Regions from separate parts of the Homo sapiens genome. Here all the other regions are reported to be linked to region 1. The links are microRNA targets in miRTarBase. Many come from high-throughput screens and were not tested one by one. Region 1 holds a microRNA gene; each other region holds the end of a gene's coding sequence.
Evidence for each region. The annotated mature microRNA hsa-miR-125a-5p reads UCCCUGAGACCCUUUAACCUGUGA and lies in region 1 at 3,218-3,241, opposite strand. An mRNA with a match to its seed (bases 2 to 7 or 8) in the 3' UTR can be bound and repressed. Matches are read on the target gene's strand: a 7mer-m8 pairs with bases 2 to 8, a 7mer-A1 pairs with bases 2 to 7 and ends in A, and an 8mer does both.

Region 2: the mRNA of RAB4A is a reported target of hsa-miR-125a-5p. The part of its 3' UTR that is shown has no 7-base or 8-base seed match.
Region 3: the mRNA of ATP5MF is a reported target of hsa-miR-125a-5p. The part of its 3' UTR that is shown has no 7-base or 8-base seed match.

The regions. Positions count from the first base shown.
Region 1 is chr19:51,690,498-51,696,508 of GRCh38, reverse strand. MIR125A (microRNA 125a) reads right to left here and starts at 3,255; the gene lies at 3,170-3,255. It overlaps SPACA6 (sperm acrosome associated 6), which reads right to left and starts at 3,179. Exons shown (of 9, transcript NM_001316972.2): 1 at 2,769-3,179; 2 at 1,954-2,031. The coding sequence starts at 2,982. SPACA6-AS1 (SPACA6 antisense RNA 1) reads left to right here and starts at 3,053. Exons shown (of 2, transcript NR_108100.1): 1 at 3,053-3,875. It overlaps MIR99B (microRNA 99b), which reads right to left and starts at 3,897; the gene lies at 3,828-3,897. It also overlaps MIRLET7E. RefSeq lists enhancers at 4,904-5,713, 5,714-6,011.
Region 2 is chr1:229,300,949-229,306,959 of GRCh38, forward strand. It overlaps RAB4A (RAB4A, member RAS oncogene family), which reads left to right. Exons shown (of 8, transcript NM_004578.4): 7 at 1,914-2,041; 8 at 2,858-4,946. The coding sequence ends at 2,029. Among named protein-coding and RNA genes, the nearest start is that of RAB4A-AS1, 33 kb to the left of the region's middle.
Region 3 is chr7:99,453,331-99,459,341 of GRCh38, forward strand. It overlaps ATP5MF (ATP synthase membrane subunit f), which reads right to left. Exons shown (of 4, transcript NM_004889.5): 3 at 5,817-5,933; 4 at 4,865-5,025. The coding sequence ends at 4,997. The region is part of intron 2 of ATP5MF-PTCD1 (ATP5MF-PTCD1 readthrough); the gene reads right to left. CPSF4 (cleavage and polyadenylation specific factor 4) reads left to right here. Exons shown (of 8, transcript NM_006693.4): 7 at 636-806; 8 at 3,102-4,043. The coding sequence ends at 3,170. Among named protein-coding and RNA genes, the nearest start is that of ATP5MF, 9.8 kb to the right of the region's middle. RefSeq lists an enhancer at 2,392-3,194.

The DNA of each region.
Region 1 (6,011 bases):
ATCACTGCAATCCAGCCTGGGTGACAAAGTGAGACCCTATCTCAAAAAAACAAAAAAACTATCACCCCTTTCTCTTCCCCTTCTCTGTTTTCCTCCATGGCAGGGATCACCAACTGACATACTAAGATACTAAGATATTTTATCGATTATGTTTATTGTCTATCTCCCCAGACTCCACCCCAATATAAGCAACCCGAGGACAGGTGGTTTGCAGTTTTGGTCACAGCGGTTGTTCCTGGCACATTCAGTAAGTATAATTGAACGTATTGCACCAGCTTCTCCCGGCCTCCAGACTCTCCCTCTGGTCCATCTTTGACACGACCCCAGAGGGTTCTTTCTACACCCAGAGCTGCCCCTACTTCTTCACTGCTCACACTCCTGCTGCAGCTCCCCAGCGCCCTGAGGAAAGAGACTCAACACTCTCTGACTTTTCTGCTGAACTCTGCACCTAGGTATCTAGCTGCCTCCTAAACGTCCCTGGGACCCCTCAAAGTCACTGCCTTCTAACCCAGCTTATCATCTGCCCCCGGCTCTTTCTCTCAGGCTCCTTATTTCGGTGATGACCCACCGCCCAACAGGCACAGAGCAGGACCTGTCTCAGATGCTGTTCTCTATGCTTCCCAAAACAGCCCAGCAGACCTAACTCTCTGGCCCTGGCCCTTCTCCACCTTCACGGCCCCAGCCCCCACTCGGGCCTCCGCTCTGGCCTGGACCCTCACCCAGCCTCTTCTCTCTCCCCTCCAAGTTTGTCCCCCATGCGGCCCCACAGAAGGCTTCCATTCCCAGATCCAAAGGTTCCTCATCTTTTCAAAAGCTTCTGTAACAAGGCAGCCTATGTGGGGAGAAAGGGCATTTCTTGGAATCCTGCACACCCCCACATGGAGAGGTTTAGGGCCTCAGGTCTCCCTTTAGGGTGGAGATGGGGAGAGCCACAGCTGAGGCCTTCTCCAGGCTGGCCCTGGATGCCCCCTGGGTGGATGGGAACCTTCCCTCTTCCGGGATTGTTGACAGGACGCTTGGAGGGCAAAGCAGGAAGCAAAAGGAGCGACTGTGGGTGTGGGAATAAGCCCTGAGCTCCTGGACCTAAGAGGAAGCCAGTTTATTCTATAGCGCAGGGCTCTGTAACTCCTGCAACTCCGAGCCTCCACAGTTCCAGGGTCTGGCACCTCGTGGGGATCATGGCCATGGTGATCAGGCATGATTACCGCCCATGCTGCCCATCGGCATTGCGTGGCCCCCAGCCCTGAGGTCTCTTCGCACAGCCACACACCTCAAGGCTGTCACATGTGCCTGTCTCACCAGGACAGTCACACCTTGTCTCTTTTCACTGCTGTCACCTGAGTGATCCACTCTGCTGTTCCTGTTTTCCCGCCCTCTAATTGCCTCACACCTCAAAAATGTGGAATCACTTTATAAGAAATCTGTGTGTGTGTGTGAGTGTGAGTGTATGTCTCTGAGCGTGTCTGTGTGCGAGTGTGTGTGTGTTCTATCCTAGAGGAAGATGCCTTCCCTAAGATCAGGCTCATCAGGCAGCCCCAACCCCTGCACTGAGCTCCATGGCCATCCTAGGAGGCAAGAAGATTGTCCCACTTTACAGATGGGTAAGTTGAGGCCAGGAGAGGGGCAGTGACACACCCAGAACTTCATAGCCAGTAAGAGTGTGAGCCATGCAGCCATGGCAGAACCTATGCCTACCCGACCCCATCTGGACTTCCAGCTCTAGGCAATTTCTGCAGCGTCCCTTCCCCCTCACCACCTTCAGCCCCTGGCTCTTAGAGCTGCCTTCAGCCTTCGTTTGGACAAGTAGCTGAGCTCAATGTCTTCCCAGCTTTCCCCTCCCGGATCACTGCCCAACTCTGGGGGCCTCCTTCCTCTGCCCTGGGCCCTCCCACATACCCATTTCTTAGGGGCTCCAAGTCCACATCTCCCATCTCCCCATCCCCACACACTCACCCTGGGCAGCAGCCAGCTCCTGCAGGGCATGGGTCATCTGGGTGAAGGTGTCATGCAGGTGGCTTCTCTCATCATAGTCTGGCGGTGAGGGAGGGAGCAGGGGCTGGGGGAGGCAGCTCCCCGCAACACCATGTCCCTAATGCGAACATTCTGTTTCTGAGTCTCTGCCCTCCCAAGTCTGTATCCTCCCCTCTCTGACTCTTTGCCCCACAGTCGCTATGCTTCCTGAGTCCCTCCCAAGTCTCTATCCTCCCTGAGTCTCTGCCCCCGACCAGTCGCTATCCTGCTTCCCCTAGTCTCTGCCTCATCTCTGTCCTCCTCTCTCTGGGTTTCCATCCTCTTTGAGTCTCCATCTTCCACCCTCTGAGTCTCCATCCTCCCCTCTCTGGGTCTCTATTCCCTCTCCAGTCTCCAACCTCTCCTGACTCTCCATCCTCCCCTTTCTATGAGTCTCCATCCTCCTGACTCTCCATCCTCCCGAGTGTCCATCCTCCCCTCTCTGACTCTCCATACTCCTGAGTCTCCATCTTTCCGAGTCTCCATCTTCCTCTCTCTCTGAGTCTCCATCCTCCCCCTCTCTGAGTCTCCATCTTCCCCTCTCTGACTCTCCATCCTCCCCTCTCTGAGTCTTTGCCCTGCTGTCTTCCCCTGTCTGTGTCTCTCTGTCCCTAAGTCTCTGTTGTTCTCATGGTCTTTGAGCCTTTCTCCTCTGACTGTTTCTCTCTGTCTGTCCCTCAGCCTGACCCTCTGGGCCTCTCCTGCCCTCCCTCTGCACCTTCCCCAGGACACTGATGAAGTGTGGATGGTCTCCTCACTGATTTCGGTGTCAGAGAGGCCCTGGAAGGCGGCCGTGAAGGCCTCCTCACACTCTTCAAGCTTGGGGCTCCGCATCCCAACAAACATCTGGCAGATGCGGAGGCGCTCAGAGTAGGTTGTGAAGCAGAGGAGACAGGCCCAGGCGGGCACCCTGAAGACAGCCAGGGCCAGCAGGGCAGACGGGACGGCACTGGCCAGAGCCAGCAGGGCCATCGTGTGGGTCTCAAGGCCAGGGGAGAAGCTAGTAACCTTTATGAAGTCACCACAGGGCGGGGGAAGGGCCAGTGGTCTGGGGTCAGAGGTCAGGTTTCAGTTGGTGGTCAAATGTCATGCTCTGGAGGAAGGGTATGAGGAGTCAGGGGTCAGAAGTCAGGCCAGCAATTCCCCAGGTGTGTGGTTGGGCCAGACGCCAGGCTCCCAAGAACCTCACCTGTGACCCTGGATGTCCTCACAGGTTAAAGGGTCTCAGGGACCTAGAGACTGGCAACATGGTGTGCGGTGGCCCGGTAGACCCTGGGGTGGGGGTCAGAGATGGAGATAGGCACAGAGACATTCTGAGAGCCAGAGACAGAAAGACCAAAAACGACAGAAATAGAGACACAGAGAGATATCGGGAGGGGCAGAGACCTAGAAAGCCAGAATAAGAGGGAGTCAGAGGATCCACTGTGAAAGAGACACAGAAGCCACAGAGACACAGCAGAGATGGAGACAGACAGGGAAGGAAAACAGATTTCAGGGGAAGGAGGGGATGCAGGGACAAGGACAGAAAAGAGCCCGGCTCTTCCTCCCAGGGTCCCTGGGGCAGCCCAGTGGGGCTAAGGGTCCCTGAGTGGGGCTGGGGGTCCCCGCCGGGCCCCGTCCCGTGCAGGGCGCAGCCTGGGGAAAGCTAGGAGGCCGTATAGTGATCTCCTTGGGTGTCCTCCTCAACTATACAACCTCCTACCTCAGCCCGGGGGGCGCGGCAGGTGGACAGACCCGACAGACAGACAGACAGGGACCAGGAGGACCAGGGATGAGGGGGAGGGCCGGGGAGGCCCCAGCCGCGATGGTGAGCCCCCGACACGGACCCACAGACACGAGCTTGTGTGCGGCGAAGGCCCCGCAAGGTCGGTTCTACGGGTGGGTGCCAGGACCCAGGAGTCCGGGCCCCCGGCCCCTCCTCCCCAAGGAACCCAGGAGTCCAGGCCCTCAGCCCCTTCCTCATCAGGGACCCTGGAGTCAAGGCTCTCATCCCCCTCCTCCCTAAAGAACCCAGAAGTCTAGGCCCTTCCTCACCACAGACCCAGGAATCCAGGCCTCTGGCCCTTTTCTCCCCAAATGTTCCTGGAATCCAAGGACTCAGCCCCTTCCTCCCTCAGACTCATGAGTCCAGATCCAAAGCCTCCTTCTCCCCAGAGACCCAGGAGTCCCTGCCCCCAGCCCCTCCTCCCTCCGGCCAGGCAGGCCTCCTGGGGAAGGCATGGCCTGATAGAAAACCTGGCTTCCTGGGTGCCGGCTGGGAGGGAACCTCATTTGTCTCGTAATTTGGCCCTTTGGGCACACCTGCTTCCTACCTACCCTCCTGTCAGTCTGCAGAGACTCCAGGCCCAGGGCTAAGGAGGCCAGGGGCTAGCCAACCATCAGAGCCTCCCTAGGTGCTTTCTTTCCTCTCTCCTCCCTTCTTTGGGTCATTTACAACTATGACAGCCACAATCTCCCAGCGCTGACCCCATACCAGGCCCTGAGCACCAGTCCTCTCCCTGACACCTCCCACTCCAGAGAGCGAGGTGCCCTCAGCATCCCCATTTGGCAGGTGAGGGGGCTGAGCCTCAGAGAGGGGAAGAGGCTCCCAAAGTCTGCCCAGCCCCATCTCTGTCCTCCCTCTTGAATCCAGGAGGTGTCCCCAGCCTTCTCCAGCTTCTGGACCCCGGGACCCAGCACCCACCCTCCCCACCCCTGGGCTCTGAGCCCCTCCAGCTGGGGTCTCTCCCGTGCCCAGCCCCTCCTCCTGGACTGTCTGGTTCTCGCTGCCCCTGCTCCAGGCGCACCTTCCGGTTCCTTTCTCGCAGTCCAGGTCTCTCTGGCCCTGCCTTTTTCTCTCTCCCTCTTTCTTTCCACCTTCCCTGGTTCCCAGCCTCCTCCTGCATCAGGACATCCCTCCCTGGCTCTGCGCTGGCTTCTCTCTCTGCCCATCGCCTCTCTCCTCTCCCCGCTTCTGTTTTCTTCCTTCTCTCCCCCTCTTTCTCCTGCTTTTCCTCTACCTTCTGTCTTTCATCCTCCCCTTCTCCCCCTTCCCCCTCTTTGTCTCTCTCATTCTCTCTCTGGCCCTCTCTCAGTCTCTCTCCTCTTTCTCACCCTTCTCCACCCCCTTTTTTCGGATGTCTTTCCTCACTTCCTCTCCCTCCGCCCCTTCCCTCTCTCCATCCCTCACCTCCGTCTCCTGCTCTCTCTCAGTCTCTGTCTCTCTCCCTCTCTCTCTCCTTCCCTCCCTCTTAGGTCTCTCTCTTTCCTCCCCTCCCCCTTCTCTCTTTGGGTCTCCCTCCCTTCTCTCTCTCTCTTTTCTCCTTCCCTCTCTCCCTCCCCCTCGCAGCTCGAGCCAGGTCTGGAGCTGGGGGTGGGGTGGGGGTGGTTTGAGAAGGGGCCCAGGGCTGGGGTAGCGACCTGAGGAGGGGGAGGAGAGGCGGGAAAGGGGCGGAGGAGGAAAGGGGGAGGCGGGGGCCGGAGACGGGTCTACGGCCAGCTCTCTTCCCCCTTCCCTCCTTCCCAACCTCCCAGACCCTCAGGCGGGGGCGAGAGTCAGGCCAAGGTGGGGAGGAAGGGGAAGGGAGGAGGCTGCCCCCGCCCCCACCCCCCCACACCAACCTGGCCCGGAGCCCAGGCCTGGGTTCCCAGCATGCCCCGGGGCTGCCTGGGGCCTGAGGAGGAGGGTGAGGGGAGAGGGGAAGCCGAGAATCTCAGAGATTCCCCGGACCTAAGCATCTCCCCCACCCGCCAACCAGTGTCTCCTTGGGGAAACTGAGGCGGAGAGAGAAGGGTCAGGACTTGTTCAAGGTCACTGGACAAGGCGTTGGTGGAAACGCGAACTCCCTGGGCCCATAGCCCCGCTTTGGGGAAGGGGTAGGCTCTGGACTTCCCCCAGGCCTAGGTCCCCCTCCCCCTCTCTGCGGACCCTGGGGAGCCCCCAAGGGTCAGAGAGCAGACCCAAACAGTCTGGCACCATGGCAACTAGCTGGTCCCGCCCCCTTAACCCCTGGAGGGCTGGA
Region 2 (6,011 bases), not on the chromosome of region 1:
GGGTGTCACTTAAGCCCTAATTATAAGCAAATCAAAGGAGTGTTCATTATGTAATGTAATAGTAACAGAGGGAAGCCTCATAAGCTAAGACTGAGCTGAAAAACACACATTGGGATGGGGAATAGAAAGTCAGTGATCATTTTGATCAAGAACAATTTCAGCAGAATTATGAAGGTAGAAGATGGCTGGCCGTCCGTTAGGAAGAAGTAGGAGGTGAGCAAGCAGAGTGTCCACTCCTCTCCTGAGGAAGCACAGGCTGGCACTGTAGGGTGCAAAGGGTTAATTTAAAGCTGGGGTTGTGGGTGATGGGAGAAATTCCAGCATGTTTAAATGCTGAGGGGGAAGGAGAGAAGAATGGGCAAGGAGAGGGCAGGGAAGAAGGAGGGTGCTAGGTGAAGTAGGAGGGAGGAGAGTCGGGCCCAGGTAGAAGGGCTGGGTTTCAACAGAAGTGGACATGTCATCTTTTTGTATTTTTTTTTATCAGAAAGAAAAAAAAATTACTAAGCTTGGTACAAAAACCAAGACACTGTTACATAAATCCTTACAGTTGGCTTACTGTTGAGTATTATTAAGCTCAGCATGAGGTTGTATTTACATGACCTTGCTATTTTAATATTGTATCCCTGAATGCATCAGATAGAACAACTCATATGCAGTCTTCCAAGATGTGTTTTTTTCTGAGATCATCAAAATCATAAGTACCTCTAGGTGAAAAAAATATAAGAGTATAAATTAGGATTCTTCAGCAGTACTTTTTATTTTTTTAATGGGTAATACATTCAGAAACCATTGTTTTCTTCCCTTTTTTTATATAAAATGTATCATATGATAGACTACCACGCCTTGCTTTTTTACTTACTATTGTATAACCTACAAATCATTACAAATCAGCTTATAGTTTCCGTATATACATATAATACATAAGGTACATATATATAACATAATGTCATACATAATGTGTGTGTGTAATGTGTAATATGGGTTGAGTATCCCTAATCCAAAATGTTCCAAAATCTGAAACTTTTTAATTGCCAACATTGCCACTGAAAGGAAATGCTCATTGGAGCACTTCAAATTTCAGATTTTCAGATTAGGGATGCTGAACTGGTAAGTATAATGGAAATATTTCAAAATCTGAAAAAATCCAAAATACTTCTGGTTTCAAGTATTTTGGATAAGGACTGCTCAACCTATATTTGGATAAGGACCGCTCAACCTATGTGTTACCATAATTCATGAGCCAGTCTACTTTGGACATTTGGGTTGTTGCCAGTATTTTGCTATTATAAGTAATGTTACAGTAAATAATTATATATATATATATATATATATATATATATATATATATATATATATATATATTTTTTTTTTTTTTTTACATGTGCATGAGTCTGTGTGTCAGACAAATGCCCAGAAGTGGAATTGCTGGGTCAGAGAACATAAGCATTTGGGATCTTGGTGTAGAGGCTGTCACATTTTCTCCTAGTGATGGGCTTATTTCACTAAAGCCATGTCCACAGCATGTAGTATCATCATACTTGGACTTTTGGCCCATCTAATAAGTGAAAAATTATATCTTTGTAATTTAATTTTAAATTATTTTATATAAATAATGTATTCACATAATTTGAAATTCAAGAAGTATAAAAGAGTATGCAATGAAAAGTCCCCCTGTTACCACCCCCTCCTGTCCTCAGCCATCTAGAACTCCTCCGAATCAGCCGTTCCTTATGTATCCTGCTAGAGATGTTTTGTGCCGGTGCAAGCAAACATATATATAGTTTTTTCCCTTTATTCAGAATGGTGGGATATATACACAGTGTTCTGTACTTTGCTTTTTTTTTTTTTAATCTATTTTTGGAATCAAAGAAACATAAAAGCCTTTTTTAAAAGAAGACTTGCTTGGTCCTTAGGTGAGCTGGACCCAGAAAGAATGGGCTCAGGTATTCAGTACGGAGATGCTGCCTTGAGACAGCTGAGGTCACCGCGGCGCGCACAGGCCCCGAACGCTCAGGAGTGTGGTTGTTAGGAGAGCACACAGGTGGGTTTGGACACCTCCCTGCCCTGAGTTCCTGGCAAGCTCAAGTGCAGAGGCCTGTTAAAGCTTTGGGAAGCTGCAGTATGAAAAAGAGGGGATCCCAGCCGGGTGCAGTGGCTCTAATTCCAGCACTTTGGGAGGCTGAGGTGGGCCAGTTGCTTTAGTTCAGGAGTTCGAGACCAGCCTAGGCATCATGGTGAAACATCATCTCTACAAAATACAAAAAATTAGCCAGGCGTGGTGGCGTGCACCTGTAGTCCCAGCTACTCATGAAACTTAGGAGAATTGCTTGAGCCTGGGAGGCGGAGGTTGCAGTAAGCCAAGATCATACCACTGCACTCCAGCCTGGGCGATAAAGTGAGAACTGTCTCAGAAAAAAAAAAAAGAGAAGGAGAAGAACCCATAAGTTAAAGTTGGATGTTCTAACTGAAAGAATTTATACTCTATAGGAAATTCTTATGCTCTTGTTCAGAAAGAAAGGAAGGGCAGGTGGTGGTTGATGGGAAGGGTGAGATATCCTGATTCCTTATGTCAGTGAGGAGCCCTTCCTGGATTGATTGAGGTCTAAATGAATGTGCCTTTTGCTAAAACAGGAGGCCTATTTATAAAATTGACAAATGTCTCCCTTTAACTTTTTAAAGCTTCTTCTTTTTTCCCATTTACCACAGTGGACGTTTTATTTATAGTCGACATCATGTAGTAGGCACAGGCAAGTGTTAAAAGACAAGATATTCACGAATTCTCTTTTAGGCTTTAAGCTGTATTTACTTTTGCATTTATAGTTATGCAGATTTTGAAATTGTTCTTAATATTTTTTAGGTGTTCATACAGTGGCATTTGGGACACAATCGTTGGAACCTGAAGAATCTGAAGTTTTTTTTACCACCATCTTTTTCTACTCTGTATGGAAGTAGATCTTTATGGGGAAAAGAGAATTTGGGGTGTTCTGCAAGCCAGTCAAAGTGGCACAGCAAATCATATAAATCGAATTAAATGGACAACACCGTTAGATGTGTATGTAAAAATTTTCTGTTTCATATTTTTCCTTTCACTTTCGGTTTAAAACATGCTATATGTACTGTATGTCCTGTAGCCCAGTGCGGCTCCACAGCATGGAATCTGATGTATGATATGATAGAATGTGGCACTAAATGCAGTTTCAGATTTTATTTTTTTTAATCATATGAACTAAAATTGTCAATTGTGAGGTGTGCTTTTCTCATCATGTTGGTTATATTGCACAATTGGTTATATTTATGACCTGATATTCAAAGACTCTGGCATTGATAGCCAGTGTGTTTTCTTATTTAACTCCGTTTACTACATTCTACATGGTGTTTACGTGATCCACACTTGAAATACTAGATCAGTAGACATTCACTAATATACCAAAATAAAATGAAAAATTGAGTTTTTCCGTGAACTTTATACTGTCCAGCTCTGTTGATTTTAAAGCCTCTTCATCCAGGTCAGTTCAGGAAGTATATCTGGAGTACCTGCTCTGTTTTTGGCTGTGAGACTAGCACTAAGGATTCTGGTACCTTTACCCAAACCTACTGGGCTACTAATACTTCTCTCAGCAGTTGATCAAATACAATAGACCATGTAAGCTGGGGCCGCTCATCCACTTCCAGTTTGCTGGTCTCCCTGCTAGAAAACACATTGTACTGTGCTTTTTCTGGAATTCAGTATAATGGCATCACTGCCTGTTTTTCACATCTTTTGTTTCCTGTTCATTTTAAGGAAACCTACTAAATCCAGTTAATATTAAATGGACACCACTCATTAAGAAATTTCTTTATGGCTTCTGCTGAATACTTAAATGCCTTACTACAGTTATCCAGTTGACATGTTTTTAATTCATATAAGGTATATTGGGTATATTGAAGTATATATTGTATTACAAAGACTTGTTCTTGTATTTTAAAATGTCAGTGCAAAAAATATATGGTGGAACCTTTCTTTAAAGTTGAAATGCAGTATTATTTAAATCTGAAAGGTTAAAAAGCTTTCTTCACCTTATATATGTTCTTCCACTGTGACTTTTTAGTTGAAGACTAGTAAATTAACTTTTAGTTAGAAGATGCCTACTGCTTTTGTTGTTTATTTTAATCAGCAGAGCACAGAGACACATAAAAACTCTGGGAAATGACTAGGATAAAAATATCAGTATGTATCTGTTTTAGATATTTTGAGTTTTGCTTTTTTTATGCCTTGAATATTTTATTTCAAAAAGTATCTGAAGCAAATTCTCAGACTGAACTACTTCTTAGACCTCACTGTAAGAATATTTTATTCAATGTCTCATTTATGATAGATTTGCAAGCTGCTCATTTTTGAACAGCTTTTTGCATGGGATAGGAGCATGTCTATTCTAACACATCAGCTTATTCAAAAGCAAGAATTTTAAAAATAAGATAAATGTAAAGTTGTTTTATAAACGATCCTGTTAATTAAACCACAGACACCATATATCCTTCTGCATCCTTTGGCCAATAAAAGTTGCTGGAGAACCAAACCATGGTGGTTCTTAATCAGGCTTTGCCTTTAGGGAGAATGAGGAGGAGAGATAATTGGGTATTGTTCAGGCTAGTAATAAATGTCATGTTTCTATTTCCCGCAACTCATTAAGTTTTCAGGAAGCTCTTAATTTAGATTTCTAGGAAAGTAATTATTCAGTCTTCCTAGAAAAAGATTATAAAGACCATTTAAACTGGAGATTGTAATTTATTCTTTTACAGTCCAGCATTTAAGTGAAAATGAGAACATCACAATTTGGGAATCTGTAATGGTTTTGTTGAAAACATTACTTGTGGCTTGTATAAGAGTGGCTGAATTCAAGAACATTGATTCTTAGCAGATCAATAATAGTATTTAAAGAATCTGATGCTAAAATTAGAAACCTAAATGATTTGTAATTTGTACTGTGACACAGCAGATGATGTTTCCTTATTTTCTGACATCTTTTTATGTTTTTGGAGAGGCACATTAGAGGTGCTTTAAAAAAAACCTGTGAATTTTTAATATTTTGTGGTGCCATTTGTGAAGCACCTCTTTCCTGATCCATCTAACTACTCCTGTACGTACAGTCTGAGTTTGTCCCACTTGTTGACTTGGTTACTTCCCTATTGTATTTATTTCTTTAAAGGGTTGTTTTAGAATTTTAGAGGAATTTATCTGAGAACACAAGATCTACCACTTTCAGTAGGACAAGTGACCCAAGTTGTTGGTCACCAGCCTCAAAGTTTAGAAAACACTACCTACTACCTACTGATAGAAAATAATGTGGTTAGGGAATCTGTTTTTTTCTTTTAAAAGAGCATTTATGTACTTTTTTCCTTCATATATCCCCCTCATTTTTTTTCTTTTTCTTTCTTTTTTTTTTAATTTTATTTTTTGTAGAGACAGGGAGGGTCTCACTGTGTTACCCAGGCTGGTCTCAAACTCCTGGCCTCAAGGGATCTTCCCACCTCAGCCTCCCAAAGTGCTGGGATTACAGGCATGAGCCACCATGCCTGGCCCCCCCCAGGTATAATATAATATAAATATAAATTTATATTATGAATTATATAGATTCTCCCTTTATATACTTATAAATTTTTTATAACAGATTTTCAAATGTAGAGAAAAATAGCCTAATGAACCACTATATCAGCCAGCTTTAACAATTGCCTACATTTTGCGATCTTGTTTTCTTTATCTTTACCCAGCGTTTTCATACTATGGTACTTGAAAACATCCGAGGCATCTGTCATTTCACCCAAAAATACTCAGGGCCGGGCGCGGTGGCTCACGCCTCTAATCCCAGCACTTTGGGAGGCTGAGGTGGGTGGATCACGAGGTCAGGAGTTCGAGACCAGCCTGGCCAACATGGTATAACCCCGTCTCTACTAAAAACACAAAAATTAGCCAGGCGTGGTGGTGGGCGCCTGTAGTCCCAGCTACTTGGGAGGCTGAGGTGGGAGAATTGCTT
Region 3 (6,011 bases), not on the chromosome of region 1:
GCCAATCACATTGAACTCTTGATGGGGAAAGCCGGGAATTCCAGGTGTAGGTGCAGCCGTGCCAACCTGGGGGTTTTCTAGCTCGGGTTCTGCACTTACGGGCCAGAGCCAGGAGCCCACCTGGTGGGGAGGAGGCCCTGCTGTGGAATCCCTACCCCAGGAGCCCTGGCCCTCCTCCTGGTGGGGCTCCCTAGAGGAGGGTCCTCTCAGCCCGAGAACGCAGCTCAGTGTGTCAGGCTCCAACTGTTTTTCTGTGACTTGCTCGCCGTGTAGGCTGCTAAACATCTGGCTGAACCAAGCGTTCATCCTGACCTGAAGCCAGAACCTCAGAAACCAAAGTAAGGCCTGATCATGCCCTCGCCCCACTGCCCCAGAGACCTCCTCTTGTCTCTTTGATGTTTTGTTTTCTATTTTATTTTTCGTTTTTGTGTGTCTGCATGGTGTTTTTCGGGCAGTGGCTTCTGCCATCATCACCACATGTTTCTCTGCTGCCCACTGTCCTGAGGTGGGCCGTCGTGGAAGCCCTGCTTCCTGCCGTTTGCGGGACGAGTCCCGCCCTCTTTTTTCCTGTCCCCATCGGTAGTCTGCGTGCACGTGTTTTCCACAGTAAAACCGTGTTGTGTAACTCTTTCCAGCAAAGTAACAATCCGCCATTACAAAGGTCGTCCTCCTTGATCCAGTTAACGAGTCAGAACTCTTCTCCCAATCAGCAGAGAACCCCGCAGGTCATCGGGGTCATGCAGAGTCAAAACAGCAGCGCGGGCAACCGGGGACCCCGGCCACTGGAGCAGGTCACCTGTTACAAGGTGAGTCCCTGGGCTGGGGGACAGGGTGGGGTCTTCCCTTACCGTCAGTGGCCATTCCCTCATGCCCCATGTGTTTGGTGAAATGAGAAAAATGAAAACATTCATTTTTGCTGATTGTAAGCATAAAGTTACAGTCTAGTTACCATCCACTGTGGTGGGCTAGAGACTGTCCTATTTCCTACCACACTGCACTGAGGCACGGTAAAGGATGGTGAGAACGCCTGCCTAGTGAATGGACGGGGCCTGCAGGCAGGTGAGGGAAGCCCCCAAGAGGCCGGGAACAAAATAGAAACACTGATCCAGGGAAGGGTGAGCCCTTGGAGCCGCTGGCTGTCCTGGGGGCATCCTTGGATCCTGCAGGGCACACCCGAGAAAACAGGACACTGGGTTACAGCACCCCTGTCCCCATCCCCTCCCCCAGTACATAAAATGGGACTCAGGAAGGGTGAGCTTCAAGAAACCTCCTCGAAAACTGTCCTGTTCACTCCTGGCTCTGTGGGAAGCGGGGAAAGGGGAGGAAAATCTCTTGATAGTTTGACGTTATTAATGGGCCCTTATGTGAGTCTAGGCCTGTATTCATGTCCTTGGTTAAGGCTGGAAAGTTACAAACTAAGTTTTCTAATCTAAAATCGCCCCAGGATTGGTGTGTCCCTGGCACGTGGCAGGAGTAACCCCCAGTACTCTTTGAAGAGTATGTTCTCAACCCAAGGCGCACACAATTCCTACAGCTGGAGTTCTGAAGAATGAGTCCAGATTAAAAATCACAAAACAGGCTGGGTGTGGTGGTGCACGCCTGTAGTCCCAGCTACTGGGGAGGCTTAGATGGGAGGATTGCTTGGGCCCAGGAGGTCAAGCCTGCAGTGAGCTATGACTGCACCACTGCACTCCAGCCTGGGCAACAGACTGAGACTCTTTGTCTCCAAAAAAATAAAAGAGCATGGAAGTGGGGCACTGTGTAGAGCAGACTTAGCTGTTATCTTGCCACCCTCCAGGCCTGTTAAGCGGGGCCACTTCTGTGCAGCAAGCGCCCTTAAGTCCTGGAGCCTTAGAAAGGTAGGGCTGACCGCCCCTGTCCACAGCCTGTCACCCCATTAATGTCAGAGACACTTCATGTAAGTCCTGGATTCCCCAGAGTCAGCTGTGGGGTCCGACAGACATGCCAGATGCCGTGAGCAGGGTGTGTGGTCCCTCCCCCAGCCATCATGTTAGCCCTACAGCCCATCGGCAGCCTCTCCATACAGAGTCACACCTGCAGATCAGACAAAGTTGAAAACACAGGGACAGCTGGGTGCGGTGGCTCACGCCTGTAATCCCAGCACTTTGGGAGGCCGAGGGGAGCAGGTCACAAGGTCAGGAGTTCGAGACCATCCTGGCCAACATAGAAGAAAGAAAACAGGAATTGCAGAGCCAGGGAATAGAGCTGGCAAGAGTGTTGGGTGCCAACTGGGCAGAGCCCCTCAGGGCAGCAGGGACTCAGGGGTGGGTGTCAGTACAGAGTCAGTGCCCCCAGCTGCCTCCTGACCCTTTTGTTCAGTGCTTGAGGCTGCCGTTTTAGGAGTCATAGAGTAAAGAGAAGCTATGGAAGGGCCTGGATAATCAGGACTGGGATGAGGCAGGGTCAGGGCTGGATTTGTCATGTGGCTCTGCAGGCTCCCCTTACCCAAGTCTAAGCATCGTCCCATCTCTCTGATCCTGTAATCAAAACCTGTCCCCAAGGTAGCTTAGGTGTGTCACAGCCACGAGGGAAAACGTTGGGTACAGCCCACCCTCTGTCCCCAGCAGTGGCTCCCCAAGGGAGGGGAGGCTGGGACACTTCTGATGCTGTTCCCTCCCATCTCCTGCCAGGGAACCCCAGACCTTGGCTCAGAGGTAAGTGACTGGCCTGTGGTGCAGAAGGGCTTGGTCCCCAGACGGGGTGGCGGAGCTCAGGTGCCACGGGCTTCTCTTTGTCCTGCTACCCACTTGGGAGTCCCTCCCTGGGCAGGCCATGTGTCCAGGTGGGAGAGTTGTGGGCCTGAAAGAGCAGGTCGCTAGCAGGTCGCCTTCTGGCGGCCTTGTTCTCCCTTGCATCTGCGGAGTTGCTGGCTAGTTTCTGCACCACTGCACTTTCCATCCTGAGCTCCCTCACCCTCTAATTTGAAAGAAACTCTGTACCACTGAGAATTTCAGAGTCATGTCCCGACTGGGGACTTGGTGGATGATTTGGGATTTGGTGGGCACTCCCTTAGTTGAAAACTGCATTTGAACAGTGTTGTTGTCTGTCTCTCCTCTTCCCCCACTTCCTGCTGTTCCCAGTGTGGCGAGAAAGGACACTACGCCAACAGATGCACCAAAGGGCACTTGGCCTTTCTCAGTGGACAGTGACAGCAGCTGGAGCCAGCTCCGAGCAGCCCGGGGGCCCCGCTGTTGGGAGTGTGCATTTAACTGTTTCATGCGCTTGTTGGCGCGACTGTGGCTCGAGCTGGCCCGCAGACACGTGGGTTTCATCACTCTGAGGGGCCACGTCTGTTAGTTTCCTATCATTTTGCCTTAGTATTTTTTGAAAAAGGGACATGTGTCCTGTGGGTCCCTGCAGTCGACATCATGTTTGGCTGGGCATCGATGCCTCCTTTCTGGGACTCCCGGCACAACTCCCCTCATCCAGGGAGGGAGGCAGCTGCTGGGGAGGGGCTTGGCTAGGTAGTTCTGTGTGGCGGTGGTCATTCCCCTCATTAAACACCAGTTCTTGGTGACGCCAGGGGCTGGTAGGTCATTCAAAGCTGTGGCCAGCTCACGCCTGCTTCCTCCCTCCCTGCCCTGCTGAATCCTAAAGCTGTGCCTATATCTGTGATTTGAATGAGGGAGCCCTTTGGGGCAAATTCAGGTGCCCCCATTGCCTCAGGCTGGCCCTGGTCCCAGGTGGCAGCGGTTGAGGAGGGGTACAGGGCTCTCAAGCCTGAGGTTTTCTTCTCTGGGCTTAATTTTCTCTTGGGGTACGTGCCTGACAGTGTTTAAGGTGTCCGTTGAACTGGAGTTGCAGACTTTTAAATAGATGACCCCTTCAGATCATCTGTGCCTACCTCCTGCCCATCAGGCGTCTACACTGTCACTCAGACACCTGTGGCATGTGGAGGAGACTGCCCTGTCCTGAGCCTGGAAAATGTGAAACTGTCTCCTGCAACCTGCTGGGCATGTGGGCCTGGCTGTGTTCAATTGCAAGAACAATTTTTATGAAATGGATTAAAGCTTGTTTTTTAAGCCATGTCTCATTAATTAAGGGTCTCATGCCAACCCTTTTACACTGGCTGCAATCACGGCGTAGCTTTCTTGTCCCTTTCAACAAATGTCAGCCTCACAAAGGGAAGTGCAGCTGCCCAGAAGGCCTGCAAGCAGCTGGTCAAGTCTGGGAGTCTGATCTGTGGAGCCAGCAGGCAGGTCCTCCACCTCAGCTCAGATGTCTGGTGGCACCTATTTCTGGGGCACAGTATCCCACCCCCAATGAGGCTCTGATGAAGAGGAAGCAGGGAGGGGCCGCCATAGCCCCTCACTTTTCCCCATCACCCCCAACCCACTAAGCCTCCTGTTAGAGAAGCCGCCTCAGCCGGAGGGCCACAATCCCTGCAGCCTGGGCGTGAGTGCTGCCTGAGGTCTCTCCAGACAGTGCCGGGTCACCTCACCCTGTAGCCCTTGATGCCCCAGGGTGATGCAGAAACACAGGATGCGGGCCATCCCTGCCTGGAGCCACAGGACAGCCGGGGTGGGATCTGGCGCTCTCAGGTACGCAAGCCTTTGTGTTACACCATAAAGGGCCAGCCAACTAAAGGCCAGAATGTCTGCAAATGCACCTGCCCACAGCACTCATGGCAAGGGACGGACTTCGGCACTGCTGCTTCGGGAAGGTCTGGATGACACCCTGCCCTCCAGGGAGCTGGGACACGACCAGAGTGGTGGTCTGGGAAGTCCACAAAGGCCTTCACCGGTCAACGGCCTGGAAAGACGACCTCCCCCCACCTTGTGCCACAGGAGCCCCTGGAACATGGGATAATGGCTACGGCAGACAGGCAGGCAATCAGCACACGTACCAGTCATGTTTTATTTGGAGGTTAATTCCTATTAGGATATGAAAGGATTCAGCAACGATTGAGATTGTGTTCCTCACGGAGGGGCTCGGGCCAAGGTCGTGGGGTGGGGGGGTGCAGAGTGTGTCCTCTTCAGTGGTATTTGCGGAGCCGCTCGTGCTCTGAAGTCAGGAAGGCAAGATGGTAAGTATCTTAAAAGGTTACAGTGAAGGCACAGCATGGCAGGAAGCAGGCTGAGATCACACAAAGCCTTCCTGAGAATTCCCTTCAGAGATGACCCATGACCCGCCTGCCGGTGTCTCTGCAGAATCAGCAGACCCGGGGGGCACAAAGACACCTCAGGAGCCAACCTGCCACCTGGCCAACCACTTTCTTTCCAGAAGGAACAGAGGGAACACACGCTCAGACAAACAGCCCCAGAGAACCCGTCCTTCAGAGGCAGGACCGCCCTGGTGCCACAGAATGGGAGTGAGGTGGGGGTAGGGGGTGTACACTACACTGTCAGAAACAGCCTAGTCAGAGGCTGCCACCGACACCTCCCGCCAATCTCCCACCAGACAAGCTCCTCTCAAGCCTCAGAGCCGGAACAGCCATGCTTTTCTGGGGTACCAGATTATCCCACTCAACTCATTTCTCTTTCTGCATTGGCTACTAGGAAAATCGAGCCAAATTTTCACAGTGTGCTGTATTTTAAAGAATGCTTCTAAGTACTCTCTTTACCCTGGCTTCATCTTGATTTTCCTGTGTTCTCTTTGTCACAATTTTCTCATTTCAAACAATATCCCACATACTGTACTCTGATAGGTCCCTCCAATTCTTTTAGGTGGAAACATAAGGAACTTTAACTAAAGGTCCCTCAGCCTCAGAAGAAGGTGGGCTGCTGTATCTAATGAAATCAGTCACCACCACCCTCTCATGGGAACTAAAGGCAAGACGCCGCAGAGGCACTCACTGAGATGCTTGTAGGAAAAGGAGTAGCTAAAGAGCACGTAGCATGCCAGCACCATGGTAATCCCCGAGATGCTCCCCTTCTTCACATTGATGTACTTGTTGTAGTACCGGTAGTAACCTGCAAACGCAAGAGGCGCTCACTGCCCTGCTGGGCTTCACATTTGAGTGAAGTTGAGCACACAGTTGAGTCTGGCTG